Linked DNA regions of Homo sapiens: region 2 is linked to region 1. Evidence: fine-mapped expression QTL. A gene starts in region 1. The other region holds a variant in brackets. All regions are shown on one strand. Distances are between the middles of the regions. Region 1 holds the start of CAMK2G (calcium/calmodulin dependent protein kinase II gamma). Region 2 overlaps SEC24C (SEC24 homolog C, COPII component).

Region 1 (8,325 bases):
GACAGCGATGAGTGAAACCCAGCTCCAGTGGCTGCACCTTTATAAAATATATAGTGTAAACTGAGAGTCTGCAGGGAAGCCATGGCCCTCACTCCCTAACCCCATGGGAACCAGCCCATGGCTACCCTGGCCCAGATCTCTCCAGGAGTTCACATCTCCCATGCCCACACCTATAGTCCAGCCCCACCTTGTTCCCTCCATCTCCAAGACAGCCCCTTTCCACTTTCCCACCTCCACACAGTACTGGCTGGCACTTACACATTCTGACCCCTCTGGCTGGCATCTGTGCCTATCATCTGTGCCTCTGTCCCAAAGTCAACCTGGCACATGAGGCCACACAACAGAGCCCAGTCTTGGCATATCCATCTTGGGAGAGGGGGAGTTGCTGTCTGAAGCATATACTTTTACACAAGAATCCTCTTCTTGAGGGGAAAAAAAAAAAAATCAACGAGAAATCAAGTCTCATCCAGTTTGGCCAGGGAAAGATATCCATTGGGAAAGATGGGACAAGGTTAAAAGGAGGTGAGGAAGGGAAAGGGAGGCTATCACACAGGTCATGGAAATTTACGCAGGTAGGGAAGGAGTAGGAAATGAAAGCCCCAGTCAGGCAGCTGCAGGAAGTCACCACATCACCTATCCTCACATCCCAGAATTCGGCTCCCAGCCATCTCTCCTTCTCTTACCCATGGGTCAGAGGACACTGGTGAGATGAAGAGAGCAAAGCATTGCATCATCAACTGGAGACACCAGATGCCAGCCCTGTTTCTGATGCACCAGGGCTCTGCTGTGTGGGCAAGAGAGGTATCCAGCCTCAAGCCATTGTTCCTGCCTGCACCTTCCATCCTTGGCCAGAGGATGTCTGCCAGAGAGCCCAGCCCCTGTTGTCCCCCCCACCCCCACTCCAGGGTATCTGACTGCCCACATATCTCTATGGCAACCATCCTCAGACTCAAGGTACCCAGAGAGAAAGAAAACAAACAAGTCCAACTTTATAGGCAATGTACACGAACAGCAAGAGATGGAGCTGGATGGGAGTCAGCAATTAGTGCCCTACTAGAGGGATGGAGAGAGAGTCCCCAGTCAGGGAGTGGACACGGCCCTGCTAAACAGGTCCCAGAACAACTGCCAACACGACAGAAGCCCGTGGAATTGTAGAGCTTCTCTAAGCATTTGGGACATCTATTATGTCTCTTATCCCAGAGAAACCCGTGTCATTATTGGCCAAAGCCCATGTCTTCCCCAGGGCATGTGTCCTGGCTCCTAATATATTTATGGCATCCTACTGCCCAGCCCTAATTCCTTTCTCTGAGTTTCACAACCTTTGTCCCCCAGCTGCACCCTGCAGCCCTCCGAGATCTGACCTCTGTACTCACCAGACCTGTTCCCAGAGCACTTCACACATTGCTGGGTCTACACCTATCAGATGAGGTGAGTTTGGCAAGTACCCAATAGGAAGTTCAGAGAGTGTAGGTTCAAGGTGTGAAAGACAGGCCCTGACCCTCCAAGCCTCAGGTACTTGGGAGGATCTCGCAAGTGAGGCCCCAAGGCCTTGGCCTTTATGCTCCTCAGACTCGGAGGCAGTGCAGTTCCTGCCCAAACCGGGCCTTTGGGATTTCTAGACCATGAGGCATCACCCTCCACCCAGGACAGACTACATCTGCTGCTGCACCACCAACTTTGTAATTTGATCAAAAAAGCAATCAAGTTCATCTGGCAGAATTTGTTCCTGAGAAGCCCTCGCCAGTAGCAGCCTCCCCTGATGTTTACAGATTCCCTTCCCTTGGGAGTCTGTTCTGCCGCCTGGTGGGCAGGGGAGGCTGGCTTTGTCAGAGCTGCTCACTTACTGCATTTCCATCCTAAGTCACCACTGGGGCACAGGGACCAGGAAAGGCCTGCAGTAGCCACCACTGCCCCAAAGGGAGAGGCTCCAAATGCCCCAAATTAAGAGCTCCCCATTCTGTACCACCCACTACCCCCATATCCTCCACCTCCCTGAAGACCGAACTCCCTTGAGCCTTTGGGGGCCACTGCAGCTACTTGCATCTCTTCCTTCATTCTTTTGTACCTGGGCGCTTCCAGTCCCCCATGCAACTCCTTTTCTGGCTTCAGCCTGACACAAAGTCCAACCAGTCTGAAATTCCAACTCCTCTCCAAGTGCTAAAACGCACAACCCCCAATTCCTGGGGCTTCCTCAAAAGAAACCATGGCCCCTGGAGGCACCCTCAGGAAGAGGTCAAGACAGGGAACACTCACCCCGGGCAGACAACTTCTTGGTATTGATGATTTTTGCTGCGTACTCCTGCGTGGAGGTTTTCTTCACACACCTGCGGACCACAGAGAAAGCACCCCTGGAGGGAGAAGGGGAAAAGAACTGGGACACGGAGCAGGGCAGAGTGACACAGACACACTTCAAGTCTGGGGACGATGATGCTCCCACCACCAGACCTCTAGTCACACTCACGTACATGCACACACACCGGCGCTGTGACCACCACCATCCAACATGAGGCAAAAGGACGCGGCCACCGCAGGACACTGAACAGATGTGGGTGGCGTGCCGCGCTCCCACCCCCTCATCCAGTCCCTGGGCAAGGCAACAGCCTCCACCTCAGGCTGCACATCAGGAGCGGGTGGGCGATGCTGAAAACACACACCTGCTGCATCTCAGACAGCCCTGCGGTCCCGGCCAAGAGAACCAGGGCAGAAGGGAGCAGAGAGACCCTGCCCTTCTCTCAGCAGGAACAGTTGAAGGTCGGGGAAGGAAAGATTAAAAAGAGGGTATCATCCCCTGAAAGAGAAATCTCCCTCAACCATGGGGCAAAGTGAGGCTCAAACCCCCCCACAGCCGGTTTCATCTCACTGCATCCCGGCTCAACTGACAGCAAGGGAAGAGAGGACACAGTCAGACATCAAGAACTCCCCTTCCCATGCTATTTTCCTTGACGTCCCCGTCAAACGGGAGCTCGCACTCTGAGCTCTGGAAACGTCTGGGGGGGCGGGCGGGGCGGGGGCTGCAGTGGCCGGGCTCGGCGCCGCGGGTGGGGGTGGGGGGCCGGGGCTGCTGCAGCGGCCAGCTCAGTGCGGAGGGGAGGGGGATGCTGAGGCTGCGGCGCGGCTCCCGGGACCACTGCAGGGGTGGGGGGAGGGGACGGGGGTGCCGCAGCACTGCCCAGCCGCGGGGCTGGGAGCCTGGAGCGGCACCCGCGGGGGGCGGGGCCGGGCGCCAAACAGCCCCCCCACGCCCGGGCTCCGCAGCAGAGCTAGGGCTGCAGGGCTGGGGAGGGTCCTGAGTGCGAGGCGCGTGGGACCTGGGTTCAGGGTGCGGAGTGAGCAACCGGGCAGCGTTGGGAGGTGGTCGGGAGGGGGGCGCCTGAAGGGTGCGGAGGGGCGGGGCTGGAGGGCACCCGGGAGCGGTCCGGGGTCTGCGGTGTCCGCGGCGGCGCGTGGGGAGCAGCGGCCCCGCCAGTTGCTGCAGGGCGCGGAGGGGGATGCGGGGCAGTGCGCGGGGGGCGCGGGGACCGAAGGCGGCGGGCGGGAAAGGCGGGGGTGGGGCGGCCGAGGGGGAGCCGCAGCGGCCGGTGCAGGGCCGGGGGGCGGGGCGAGAAGCCGCATAGCTCCCGGGCGGCAGGGCAGGCAGGGGACCGCGGCGGGCGGGCCGTACTTGCCAAGCTCCTCGAAGAGCTGGTAGTCGTCGGTGAAACGGGTGCAGGTGGCGGTGGTGGCCATGCTGGCGGGCGGGCGGACGCGGCGGTGCAGCCCGCGCCGACGTCGGTGCACAGTCACCGCCGCCCGGCCGAGGGAGCAAGAGGAGGAGACGGGGCTGAGCCCGGCAGCACCGCGAGACTTTACCGGGGAGAGCGAGGGAGGGAGGGACACCCCCGCGCCGCCCGCCCCGCCCCGCCCCCAGGCCCCGCCAGTCCCCCCCCCCGCCCGGCCCCCGGCCCGCCCCCGGGGAGGGGCCTCCCGCCGCCGGCCCCGCCCCGCCCCGGAGCCGCCCTCGCTGGGCCAGGCGCGCGGGGCAGCCGAGGGGAGGGGGTCCCCGCTCCGGGCCACCTGTCTGGGCAGACGGAGCTGGAAGGTTCGCGACTTATGGGCTTGTCCCGGGGCGGACCCCGCGCGGGCTCGGGAACGTGCATGCGAGGGTGCATGTGTTAGGAGTGTAGGAGTCTGGACCACTGACCTCTCTGGACGGGTCCTACACGCGGGTCCCGAGCCCCCAACCGGGCTCCTAGCACGTGGGGAGAGAGCCAAGGTCAAGGAGCCTGTGCCAGGCTGCACGCCCGGGAGGCGCCCCCAGCCTGCGCAGAGCCAGCTGCCAGCCGCCTTCCCTCTGGGAGCTGACAGTCTAGACTTGCGCAAGCACCAGGGCCATTATTAGAAAGAAACCCTTCAGGCGCGGGTTGATCAGGGAGACCAGGCCAGGGGCAAGGATACAGGTAGGACTCTGCCTTCCTGCACCATAACTGCAGAGATGAAAGAGTATTCTCTATCCGGCCAGAAATGAAAGGGGTGAAGTAGGAAGACTTGAAAAGGCTTTGTGCAGTGGGGGCTAGAAGAGAAAGTGGAAGAAAGGGGAAATCCCCATTTTCTTGCAAGGCACCCTCGTACTTTTATTTTCTGGCACCTACCACATTTTGTAGTGATGCATTGACTGGTATAAGGGGCAGTAGAGCTATCTCATAGCTGTCTAAGCGTGAACTTGCATCAAACTGCCTGGATTGGATTTCTAGGCAACTCACTGATCAGCTCTGTGACCTGGGGTAAGTCACTGAATCTTTTTTTTGAGACGGAGTCTTGCGCTGTTGCCCGGGCTGGAGTGCAGTGGTGCGATCTTGGCTCACTGCAGCCTCCACCTCCTGGGTTCAAGCGATTCTCCTGCCTCAGCCTCCCGAGTAGCTGGGATTATGGGCGCGCGCCACCACGCTCGGCTAATTTTTTTGTATTTTTAGTACAGACGGGGCTTCATTATGTTGTAGTAATGAAGTATGTATGTAGTACATACATGAAGTAATGAAGTATGTATGTAGTACAGAGGTGGCTTCATGAGCCACCTCGCCCGGCTGGGAACAATAATATTACCTACCTCATAGGCCTGTCAGCATTAAATGGTCTAAGGCACTTAGAATAGTACTTGGTGCCTAATTAGAACTACATTTGCTGGGCCGGGCGTGGTGGCTCATACCTGTAATCCCAGCACTTTGGGAGGCTGAGGCGGGTGGATCATGAGGTCAGGAGTTCGAGACCAGCCTGGCCAACATGGTGAAATCCTGTCTCTACTAAAAATACAAAAACTAGCTTCCCGCTGAATTGTAGGCTCCAATAAAGCGGGGCCTCTGCACCTTTTGTTCACCATTGTACACTCAGCCCCTGACCCTCAGTAAATATTTGTGGGATGGCAGAGGGAGATACCATCCCTTCTCCTGTCCCCACCATCACAAGTTGGTGGGACAGAGGCACATAACTGTCTTGATGGGGGACAAACAGGCTGGGCAGGTTCCTGACCTGCCTGGGCAGCTGTCCCCTGAGGCTGAGGCCAGCCCCAACTGGGCAGGGTGGAGCTCAGCCAGAGGCTGCCACTCAGTCTTGATTACAGCAGGACGCCCACTGGGAGTCGGGTCTCCCTCGCCAGCAGGCTCGCTCTGCCAGAGGAGGGGGCTGAGAGGTGTCCCAGCCTCCCAAGCTGCCTCCCTGAGGGGTGGGTGGGGCAGAGCTCTCCAGGAGTGCTCCCCTCCTGTCCTGACCCAACAGCCCTGAGAGCTGCTTTGGGAACCAGACTGCCCAGTAGGGGTGATTAGGGAATGGGAGGGCATGAAGCCCTAAAGGAAAAGCATTAGCAGTTCTCTTGGGAGAAGGGTAGAGAGGGCCAAGGGAAAGGGTAGCAGTGCCAGAGCACCATGCCCTACCCCTCCCCAGGGCAACAGGAGGTAAAGTGGAGAGTAAGGCCACTTCCTATCTCAAAGCACCTGGGTGAGAGCCAGGTCCCAAGTCCCAGTGTGGGGTAGGGCAATGAGATTGCATACATGGGGATGCCAGTAAGTGTTGAGTTTCTGTCATCCATCTCCAAAGCAGAAGCAACTTTGAATATCAGTTGATCATCAATGTGCCCTTCCTAAGTGCTCAAGGCAACTTGCTTCCTGACCTCCAGGCTGATACTTGAAACTTTCTATTCATGAATGGAAGGTGGAGTGGAGGAGACCCTGAGAGGTCAGAACAAGCACAGAGGAGGGCTGCCATGGAGTCCCCTAGGAGTATCCTGGGGCAAATGTAAAACAGGACTACAACCCTGACCAGTCTCATGTGCCTGCTGTGAGAGGAACATCATCCCGACTGAGGGGAGGGTTCAACACTAGGTGTTTTGGGGTAACCACGTAAAGCATTTTGCATTGTGTCTCTAGGTAAAAGGAAGAGTGATGAGAAAAATATTGGAGTGAAGCCTCAGGGGTGACTCATAGTACTATATAAGTGGAGCTAGCTGCCTTTCAACAAATATGACTCCCTACCATAGGTTTGTCACTGCCTTTTACTTTTTGAAACATTCAAATAAAGTAGAAAATTAGAATTCACACAATTAGAAGAAAACTCAATCCATCGTCTTTTTTTTTTAACCCCTCAGACAGGGTCTCGCTCTGTCCCCCAGGCTGGAGTACAGTGGTGCTGTCACGGCTCACTGCAGCTTCACCCTCCCAAGTAGCTAGGACTACAGGCATGTGCCACCACACTCAGCTAGTTTTACATTTTTTTATAGAGATGAGGTCTCACAATTTTGACCAGGCTGGTCTCAAACTCGTAGACTCAAGCAATCATCCTGTCTTGGCCTCCAAAAGTGCTAGGATTACAGGCATGAGCCACCTTGTCCAGCCTCCTTTTTCCTTTGTATCTCTACTTCACTTTTCCCTTCCTCCCTCACTACTTCTCTCAACAGCGCAGCCTCTGACGCATCCACGGTGGTGGTTTGGAGCCTATAGACACTTCTGTGTGCACACACAAACACACACCCTCGCACATACACCCTCCTCTATCCCCACTGCTGTAGCGCCCACACAACCTCCAGCTACCCTACAGCAATTAGAGGGAAGATACACACAAATAATAACAAGCTCACCAGCTCCCTCCACTTCAGTGTCTATGGCAACCTCCTGGGGTCTTTGGGCTGGGTTGCTCTGGTTGCAGCCAGTCCCCTGGGCAGCACCAGCACTCAGGCTGTGCTCAGAGCTCAGAGAACAGGGAATGACAAAGATATCAGTACCCTGATAAGCACCAGAGGCACCCCACTGGGTGGGACCATCTTTCTCTTTGAAGCCTGCAAAGTCTCACGTCCATGAGGGGTTTTCAATCCATATTCTAAGCAGAATCCATGGGGTTACGAGGCCAGGCCGCAACAGCTAGTCAACATATATATATTGACGTTCCACATAAGATTTGGTTGCAGTTAAGAGTCCCTGACTAAAAAGAAGTTTGGAACCCATTGGACTTCTGGGTCCTTTCCAACTCTGAGATTCTATGATTAGTTTTGGAGAATTAGGAGTGATGAGATCATGACCTCTCTCCAAGGAACTCTGAGAGAATTATTAATGGTGCGGCATTTAAAACTGGAGAGAAGATGTGATCATGGAGATAGGAAAGAGTGAGAAAGCAAATACAACATTTGTTTTGTTTTGAGACAGTGTCTCACTCTGTCACCCAGGCTGTGGTGCAGTGGTGTGATCCTAACTTACTGCAGCCTCTAACTCCTGGGCTCAAGCCATTCTCCTGCCTCAGCCTCCTGAATGGCTGGGACTATAGGTCCATGCCACTATACCGAGCTTAATTAAATTTTTTTTGGTAGAAATGAGGGTCTTGCTATGTTGCCCAGGCTGGTCTTGAACTCCTGGCCTCAGGCTGTCCTCCTGCTTTGGCCTCTCAAAGTGCTGTGATTACAGGCATGAGCCACTGTAAACACAGTATTTAAATAAGCAATCCTCACACTGGGAGGGAGTGAAGGATGCCCCTCTTTGCCCTGGAAGGTACATCAGAAAAAGCCTACCAGTGGGCTTCTCCAAATCACTACTTTTTCCCATCCTTCCTGAGTCTAAAAGCTGGAAAAAAAAAAAAAAAAAAAGACTGAAACCACAGATTATGTCAATGAGTGCAGCATTTTTTTTTTTCTTTTCTTTTTTTTTTTAAGATAAAGTCTCACCATGTCGCCTAGACTGTTCAGTGGCATGATCCTAGCTCACTGCAGCTTCTATCTCCTGGGCTCAAGTGATCCTCCCACCTCAGTCTCCTGAGTAGCTGGGACTACAGGCACAAGCCACCATGTCCTACTAATTTCTTTTTTTATTTTTA
Region 2 (8,325 bases), 120 kb before region 1:
TGGCTTATACCTGTAATTCCAGCACTTTGGGAGGCCAAGGTGGGTGGATCACCTGAGGTAAGGAGTTTGAGACCAGCCTGGCTAACATGGTGAAACCCCATCTCTACTAAAAATACAAAAATTAGCTGGGTGTGGTGGCGGGCACCTATAATCTCAGCTACTTGGGAGGCTGAGGCAGGAGAATCGCTTGAACCCAGGAGGCAGAGGTTGCAGTGAGCCAAGATTGTGCCACTGCACTCCATCCTGGGCGACAGAGTGAGACTTCGTCTCAGGAAAAAAAAAGTATATGGGAGGTTATATGCAAATATGATGCCGTATAACCCACATCCAATTCTATTGATTCCACCTTCAAGATGTATCCCAAATCTCACTACAGTCATTCCTCAGTATCCATGGGGGAATGGTTCCAGGACCTCCCCTGACCAACAGATACCAAAATCCACAAAGGCTCAAGTCCCTCATATAAACTCTATTCAAGTAGAGATGTTAGGTAGGCAGGTGCATATACAAATCTGCAGCTCAAGACTGATGCTAGGACTGGAGATAAAAATTTGGGAGTCCTCAGTCTATAGATATTTAAAGCCGTGGGACTAGATGAAATCATTTAAAAAGTGAGTATTGAGATTAAAGAATGGAATTGAGGACTGAGACTTGGAGCTTAGCAACATTTAAAAGTAAAGAGGAGCCGCCATTAAAAGACAATGAGGGGCCAGGTGCAGTGCCTCACTCCTGTAATCCCAGCACTTTGGGAGGCTGAGGCAGGCAGATTGCTTGAGCTCAGGAGTTCGAGACAAGCCTGGGCAACATGGTGAAACCCTGTCTCTACCAAAATACTAAAATTAGCCGGGTGTGGTGGCACATGCCTGTGGTCCCAGCTTCTTGGGAGGCTGAGGTGGGAGGATGGCTTGAAACCAAGAGGCGGAGGTTGCAGTGAGCCGAAATCGCACCGCTGCACTCCAACCTGAATGACAGAGTAAGACCCCATCTCAAACAAACAAAAAAAAAACAAAAGACAATGAGAAAGAGCAGTAGTGAGGTGGGAGATAAGCCGGGAGAGTGTGGTGTCCTGAAGTCAGGTGAAGAGAGTATTTCAAGAAGGTGAGAGAGTAATCAGTTGTGTCAGATGCTGCCAAATTGTAAGATGAAGATGGAGAATTGACCATTGAATTTGGCAAGGTTGGCGTCATTGGTAAAGGCAGTTTCAGTGTAGAGATAAAGAAAACTACCCAGTTGGAGTGAGTCAGAGTTTCAGGCCAGGCGCGGTGGCTCATGCCTGTAATTCCAGCACTTTGGGAGGCCGAGGCGGGTGGATTACAAGGTCAGGAGATCGAGACCATCCTGGCTAACACGGTGAAACCCCGTCTCTACTAAAAATACAAAAAATTAGCTGGGCGCGGTGGCAGGCTCCTATAGTCACAGCTACTTGGGGGGCTGAGGCAGGAGAATGGCGTGAACCCAGGAGGCAGAGCTTGCAGTGAGCCGAGATCTTGCCACTGCACTCCAGCCTGGGCGACAGACAGCGAGACTCCGTCTCAGGAAAAAAAAAAAGTTTCAACCGGGTGGTAGATTGACATAATCTGAAAACCCTCTGCTACCAAAGTCTAGAAAGGAGAGAGAAAATAGAAACAAAAAAAATTTTTAAGTGCAAAGTTAAGCTTGAAAGAAAATGTGAAATTCTTAAGTTTTAGAGACCAAGTGAGGACTGAAAATCTTTTTTTTTTTTTAAATACAGAGTCTTGCTCTGTCGCCCAGGCTGGAGTGCAGTGGCACGATCTCTGCTCACTGCAACCTCTACCTCCCAGGTTCAAGCGATTCCCCTGCCTCAGCCTCCCAAGTAGCTGGGACTACAGATGTGGGCCACCATGCCCGGCTAATTTTTGTATTTTTAGTAGAGATGAGGTTTCACCGTGTTGGCCAGGCTGGTCTCAAACTCCTCGCCTCAGGTGAACCGCCCACCTTGGCCTCCCAAAGTGGTGGGATTACAGGCATGGGCCACTGTGCCTGGCCATCAAGTGAGGACTGAAAATCAGAGTGGTAAATTGACTCTGGAGCTGCCTGTAGATTGGGTGGATTCATCATCTTGAGAAGCCAGGGCCTTAAATTTAAGCAGGTACTGGGGAAGGCAGATGAGTCCTTGGGCTTTCCTGAGAGTAGTTTTGGAACTGAGACATTGTTTATAAAGTCTGGACCTGGGCTGCACCTTCATTGAACAAGCTGACTAGGGGAAAAAAGTCTGCACGCTGGAAAGGGGAGATAAGGAGTGCTGTTTCTCTCAGGCTGGCTGTGGATGGGTGAAAAAAAAAGTTCTTGGGACTGCAAATGGACATGACATCTTTTTGGAATGATGAAAATGTTTTAAAATTTGATTCTGGTGATGGTTGCATAACTAAATTTACTAAAAATCATTGAATTGTTCACTTGAAGTGAATTTAATGGTATGGAAATTACATCTCAGTAATATTTTTTTTTTTTTGAGACAGAGTTTTGGTCTTATTGCCCAGGTTGGAGTGCAATAGCACGATCTCAGCTCACTGCAGCCTCTGCCTCCTGGGTTCAAGTGATTCTCCTGCCTCAGCCTCCCAAGTAGCTGGGATTCCAGGCATGACCACCATGCCAGGCTAATTTTTTGTATTTTTAGTAGAGACAGGGTTTCACCATGTTGGCCAGGCTGGTCTTGAACTGACCTCAAGTGATTCACCTGTGTTGGCCTCCCAAAGTTCTGGGATTACAGGTGTGAGTCACTGTTCCTGGCCAATTTTTTTTTTTTTTTTTTTTTTTTTTTTTGAGATGAAGTCTCGCTCTGTCACCCAGGCTGGAGTGAAGTGGTGTGACCTTGGCTCACTGCAACCTCCACCTCCCAGGTTCAAGTGAATCTCCTGTCTGAACCTCTTGAGTAGCTGGGATTACAGGTGTGCACTACCACGCCTGGGCTAATTTTTGTATTTTTTTAGTAGAGATGGAGTTTCACCATGTTGGTCAGGCTGGTCTTGAACTCCTGACCTCAAATGATCCATCTGTCTCGGCCTCCCAAAGTACTGGGATTACAGGCATGAGCCACTGCACCTGGCCTAATTTTTTTTTTTTTTAAATTAGAGGCCAGGTGCAGTGGCTCATGCCTGTAGTAATCTCAACACCTTGGGAGGCTGAGACAGGAGGATCACTTGAGGCCAGAAGTTTTAGACCAGCCTGGGCAACATAGGGAGATCCTGTCGCTATAAAAAAAAAAAAATAGCTGAGCATTGTTGGTGTGCCTGGGAAGCAGAGGTGGAGGCAGGAGGATTGCTAGAGCCCTGGAGGTTGAGGCTACAGTGAGCCATGATGGCTTCGCTGCACTGTGGCCTGGGTGCCAGAGTGAGACCCTGTCTCAAAAACTAAAAAAAAAAAAAAATCAATCTAGGGTGACACTGTCATTATTGGAGTACCTTCTGGAAACAAATGTAGAACAACCACACCTCAGTCCGGGCTGGAAGGGATTATCGGAGAAAGGCACTTTGATTAGAGTTGGGCCAGGCACAGTGCTCATGTTTGTAATCCCAGCACTTTGTGAAGCCGGGGTAGGAGTTCAAGACTATCCTGGGCAGCATAGCAAGACCCTGTCTCTACAAAAAATAAAAAAAATTAGCTAGGTGTGGTGGTGTGTGCCTGTGGTCTCAGATACTTGGGAGGGGAGGCTTAGGGGGAGGATTGCTTGAGCCCAGGAGGTCAAGGCTGCAGTGAGCCACAGATAGTGAGTGCCATTGTACTCCAGCCTGGGTGACAGAGCGAGACCCTGTCTCAAAAAAAAAAAAAAAAAAAAAAAAAAAACGTAAGGCTGGGCACGGTGGCTCACGCCTGTAATCCCAGCACTTTGGGAGGTTGAGGCGGGCGAATCACGAGGTCAGGAGTTCCGAGACCAGCCCGGCCAACATAGTGAAACCCCGTCTCTACTAAAAATACAAAAATTAGCCAGGCATGATGGTGGGCACCTGTAGTCCCAGCTACTCGGGAGGCTAAGGCAGGAGAATTGCTTGAACCCAGGAGGTGGAGGTTGTGATGGGCCAAGATCGCACCACTGCACTCCAGCCTGGGCGACAGAGTGAGACTCTGTCTCAAAAGAAAAGAAAAGAAAAAAAAAAGTAGAGACAGAGTATAGACCTATTCTTTTGTAATGTTTAGCTAAAAGGGGAGCAAAAGTTTGAGGGGGCTGTGAGGTAATTTGGTTGGATTTTTAAAAAGTTTTTTGAGATATAATTCATATACTGTGCAATTCGTCTGTTTAAAGTGTTTTTGTATATTTAGTGGTTTTTAATATATTGACAGATATGTGCTGTCACAATTTAGTATATTGACAGATATCACTACAGTCAGTTTTAGAACATTTTCATCATCTGAAGAAGAAATACTGCATTCTTTAACTACCCCTGTTTAGCTATTCCCCCATTCCCCTATTCTTCCAACCTTAAGCAACTCCTGATCTACTTTCTGTCTCTAAAGATTTCCCTATTCTGGACTTTTCATTAGAATAGAATCATATACTATGTGATATTTTATAACTGACTTCTTTAATTTAGCATAATATTTTCAAAGTTCAACTATGTTGTAGTGTATATTAGTACTCCATTCCTTTTTGTGGTTAAGTGGTTTTTCATTGTGTAGCTACATGCCACATTTTGTTTATCCATTCTTCTGCTGATAGACATTTGGGATGTTTCCACTATAGTTGGTTTTTGTGTGTGTGTGTGTGTGTGTGAGATGTTTGTATGTTTTTGTGCTGATGGGAATAATCAGAGAGGGAGACACTGAATGGAAAG[T/C]ATATTGGAAAGACACTGTGGTAGACTGAGGCGGGCAGATTCGTTGAGCTCAGGAGTTTGAGACCAGCCTAGGCAACATGGCGAGACTCCGTATCTATAAAAAATGCGAAAACTAGCCACGCATGGTGGCGTGTGACTTTCGTTTCAGCTACTTGAGAGGCTGAGGTGGGAAGATCAGCTGAGCCTGGAAAGTTGAGGCTGCAATGAGCTGTGATCACACCACTGCACTTCAGCCTGGGTGGCAGAGTGAGACCCTGTCTCAAAAAAAAAAAAAAGCTGGACAATCAATCTGCATTTGTTTGATTTCATATTTATTAAGGTTCATGCATGCTTATGCGTGCCTTCCCTTTCAGTGCTTTCAGGGCTTCAGATTACAAAACTGAAGAGGTTTGTCAAAGAATTGAAGCAGAGGAAGCAGTAATTTAGTTAGCAGAGTAAATAGTACTTGACCTGAAGGTGCTTGGTTTATGTTTGTGGAGTGAGCTTAATGGAAAACAAGATTTGCCATGAATAATCAGGAATATAATTTACCCACAAATATACAAAAGTATGAAGCCATAAAAGAACTCAGGGTGTGAGAGTAAGATGTCACAAAACAATGTAGCTTCCTGTATGATGTGACACTTCTGTAGACTTCAAAGGGTGTCCTGGCCCCACTAGTCACCTCTGCTTGCTTTCTTTTCACAGGCTGCCTGGGTCTCAGCCATTTGGGTCCCCATTGGCCCCTGTGGGCAACCAGCCACCTGTGCTTCAGCCCTATGGCCCTCCCCCGACAAGTGCACAGGTGGCTACGCAGCTGTCTGGAATGCAGATCAGCGGTGCTGTGGCCCCAGCCCCTCCTTCTTCAGGGCTGGGCTTTGGTGAGTGGCTGTGAACACAGGAATGTTACTGTCCCCTGTTCAGAGGCATCAGACTCTGGGGTTATACCTGAATCTCTTTTATTTCCCTTGTATTTCCTGTGCCTCTGAGCCTCAGAAGATGGGACAGTCATATTTGCCCCTCTTGTGTGGAAAGGGAAGTGATATACCGAACAAGGAGGCAGAATGACTGGGCTTTTGACTCTACCTTTATTCTACTTCTCAGGCCCACCAACATCGCTGGCTTCAGCCTCAGGAAGTTTCCCTAACTCTGGTCTGTATGGCTCCTATCCTCAGGGCCAGGCTCCTCCCCTTAGCCAGGCCCAAGGTCATCCTGGGATCCAGACTCCCCAGCGATCTGCCCCATCACAGGCCTCCAGCTTCACACCCCCAGCTTCAGGGGGTCCTCGGCTGCCTTCGATGACTGGTCCACTCCTGCCTGGACAGAGTTTTGGAGGGCCCTCAGTGAGCCAGCCCAACCATGTGTCTTCACCTCCTCAAGCTCTGCCCCCTGGCACCCAGATGACTGGGCCCCTGGGACCACTGCCACCTATGCACTCCCCGCAGCAGCCAGGCTATCAGCCCCAACAAAATGGTGAGTCTTTCCCAAGGTCTGTCTTAGAAGCTAGAGGCTTCAGCTACTCAGGTGGTTTTTGATGTTTTTTATTTGTTTGTTTTTAGTATTACTTGCTAAGTGGTGAATTAGATGGGTAGCTTCAGGGTATTATTCCTAGGATATGGGGTTTGTAAGACATTATTTTTTCTTGTCGTTCTGATAACATGGTATTTTTCTGAATGTCTTTGCCAGGCATTAGTGTGCCTCATAATTCTATGTTTTTAGGAGTCTAGTCATTTTCCTGAGGCCTTAAGAAGAGATAGGGATGGGATTTTGAGTTCATCAACCTTGTGTCCTTGTCTCAGGTTCCTTCGGACCAGCCCGGGGCCCTCAGTCTAATTATGGAGGCCCCTACCCAGCAGCACCCACCTTTGGCAGTCAGCCTGGGCCTCCTCAGCCACTGCCTCCTAAGCGCCTGGACCCTGATGCCATCCCAAGCCCTGTAAGTAGAAACTTTCATGGTCCTGAGGAAGGGTTTGTGTCTGCCAGATAGGCAGGTCAATCTAGATGAAATGTTTGCCTAGCATTTTCTGATAATTTTCCCTTTTTGTTCATCTTCTTGGAGAACTTACATATAATTTGATTCTGAACTGGAACTTGAGGTTCTAGGAGTCTTTTGGGGGGCTGTTTTACTCTATAGCTGGGCAGAGAAGGAAGGGAAACCAAGAGTGAGCAGCAGCACCAGTAGATGTCTGAGGGCTGCACTCTGTCACTACTGTACATACATAGTATAGTAGCCTTTGTCCTTCTGTGGAGCAGTGACTGGGTCTTGTCCCCTTAGATCTAGAAGGATGGCATTCTTCCTAATGGGTAGAGCAGGTGGGAATTCTCTGATGTTAGATGTTAAGAGAAGGAAAGCCTCACTGGTTTCTCTGCTCTTACTTGGACAGTTTTAGGAGGAAGTCCCCAGTACTTTTGTTTGGTAGGCTTCTGCTGTGTGGATGGGGAAGAGTGAACGACAGTTTATGAGGGCAGTGTGTATGTAAAGTCCCACTGGAGAGCTGCTTTTTTCAGGAAGAGGGTGAATTGCACCCTTGGAGCCATCAGAATCCTCAGGCCCTCCTTATCAGACTCAGAATAGAGACTAGGACTGTACTGCCAAGTAGGGGCCACTTTATAGTTCCACCTGTAACATTTGCTATGTCAGTTACCTTGCCATGCTTAGCCATTGTCATATTCCATTCTGTTCTCGTCCCTCTTCCTCCTTTGGGTAACCAACACAGTGAGGGAGCCTGTTGGCCAAGGAGAACTCAAGAGGATTAAGCAGCCTCTCCTTCCTTCCCCCTCCTTCAGTGAGAAGGAGAGTCTGGTTGGACATGAAGGGAGGCTTCTTTCAGCATAAGATAGTCCTTAGAATGGGAGGTTTGGCCTTTTAGGGGGAACACTCCTCTTCTTCTTCCTTAAGGTTTCTTCCATTCAGCCTCAGCCCCTCCCTGTGTAACTCCTGCTTGCCTCCTGTTTGCCCCTTTCCTTATCTTTCTACATCATAGTCTGAGCCATTAAAGCCTCTGTGTTGGGCCAGAAAGACTTGGAATTTCATATCTAGAGGGGGCTTGATTTCAGCAATATGAGCTGGGCTCCAGCTGTTCATGTCTAACTCAACAGGGTTGAGAGAAGTAACATCTGCCTCTTGTTCTTTTGTCTCCCTCCTTGTATTCCCCTGCTGCATTTATTATTAAAACACTAAAAGCAACTCAGTGAGCTGCCTCCTCAGCAGAAAACCAGGCACAGAATAGACCCCGATGCCATTCCTAGTCCAGTAAGTGCAGGGGGTGGGTGTTTGTGCATGTCATTCCTGTGTTAGTGCCATCCATGCATGCCTGTGACCTCATCTTCACCTCATCTACCATGTCCATTCCTCCCCATTCTCTTCCTTTAGCCTAGCCCTTCTAGATACTCACTTATACAAGATAAAAGGATATGCATGCCTCAAGTCACCAGGTAATGAAGAGGTAGCAAGCTGTTTGCCTTGAGTATGGGGTGGTGGAAGGTCAGGCTCTAAGGGTGGGGTCAGGTGGCATGTCAAGCTTTGGCTTTAGTTCTGCTGGCACCTCCAGGAGCC

What was found. PIP is the estimated chance that this variant, and not a neighbour inherited with it, causes the effect. A credible set is the group of variants that fine-mapping cannot tell apart.
Region 2: its variant is the best candidate, but not a certain one, in a credible set for the expression of CAMK2G in whole blood (TOPMed, PIP 0.69).

The regions. Positions count from the first base shown.
Region 1 is chr10:73,870,736-73,879,060 of GRCh38, forward strand. It overlaps CAMK2G (calcium/calmodulin dependent protein kinase II gamma), which reads right to left and starts at 3,820. Exons shown (of 23, transcript NM_001367534.1): 1 at 3,662-3,820; 2 at 2,254-2,348. The coding sequence starts at 3,726. RefSeq lists silencers at 3,213-3,272, 3,533-3,702, 3,763-3,922, 3,933-4,212 and an enhancer at 4,433-4,542.
Region 2 is chr10:73,754,145-73,762,469 of GRCh38, forward strand. It overlaps SEC24C (SEC24 homolog C, COPII component), which reads left to right. Exons shown (of 23, transcript NM_198597.3): 4 at 5,478-5,650; 5 at 5,874-6,242; 6 at 6,569-6,705. Among named protein-coding and RNA genes, the nearest start is that of SEC24C, 14 kb to the left of the region's middle. RefSeq lists an enhancer at 5,631-5,730. The variant T/C (reference allele first, on the strand shown) is at 4,791.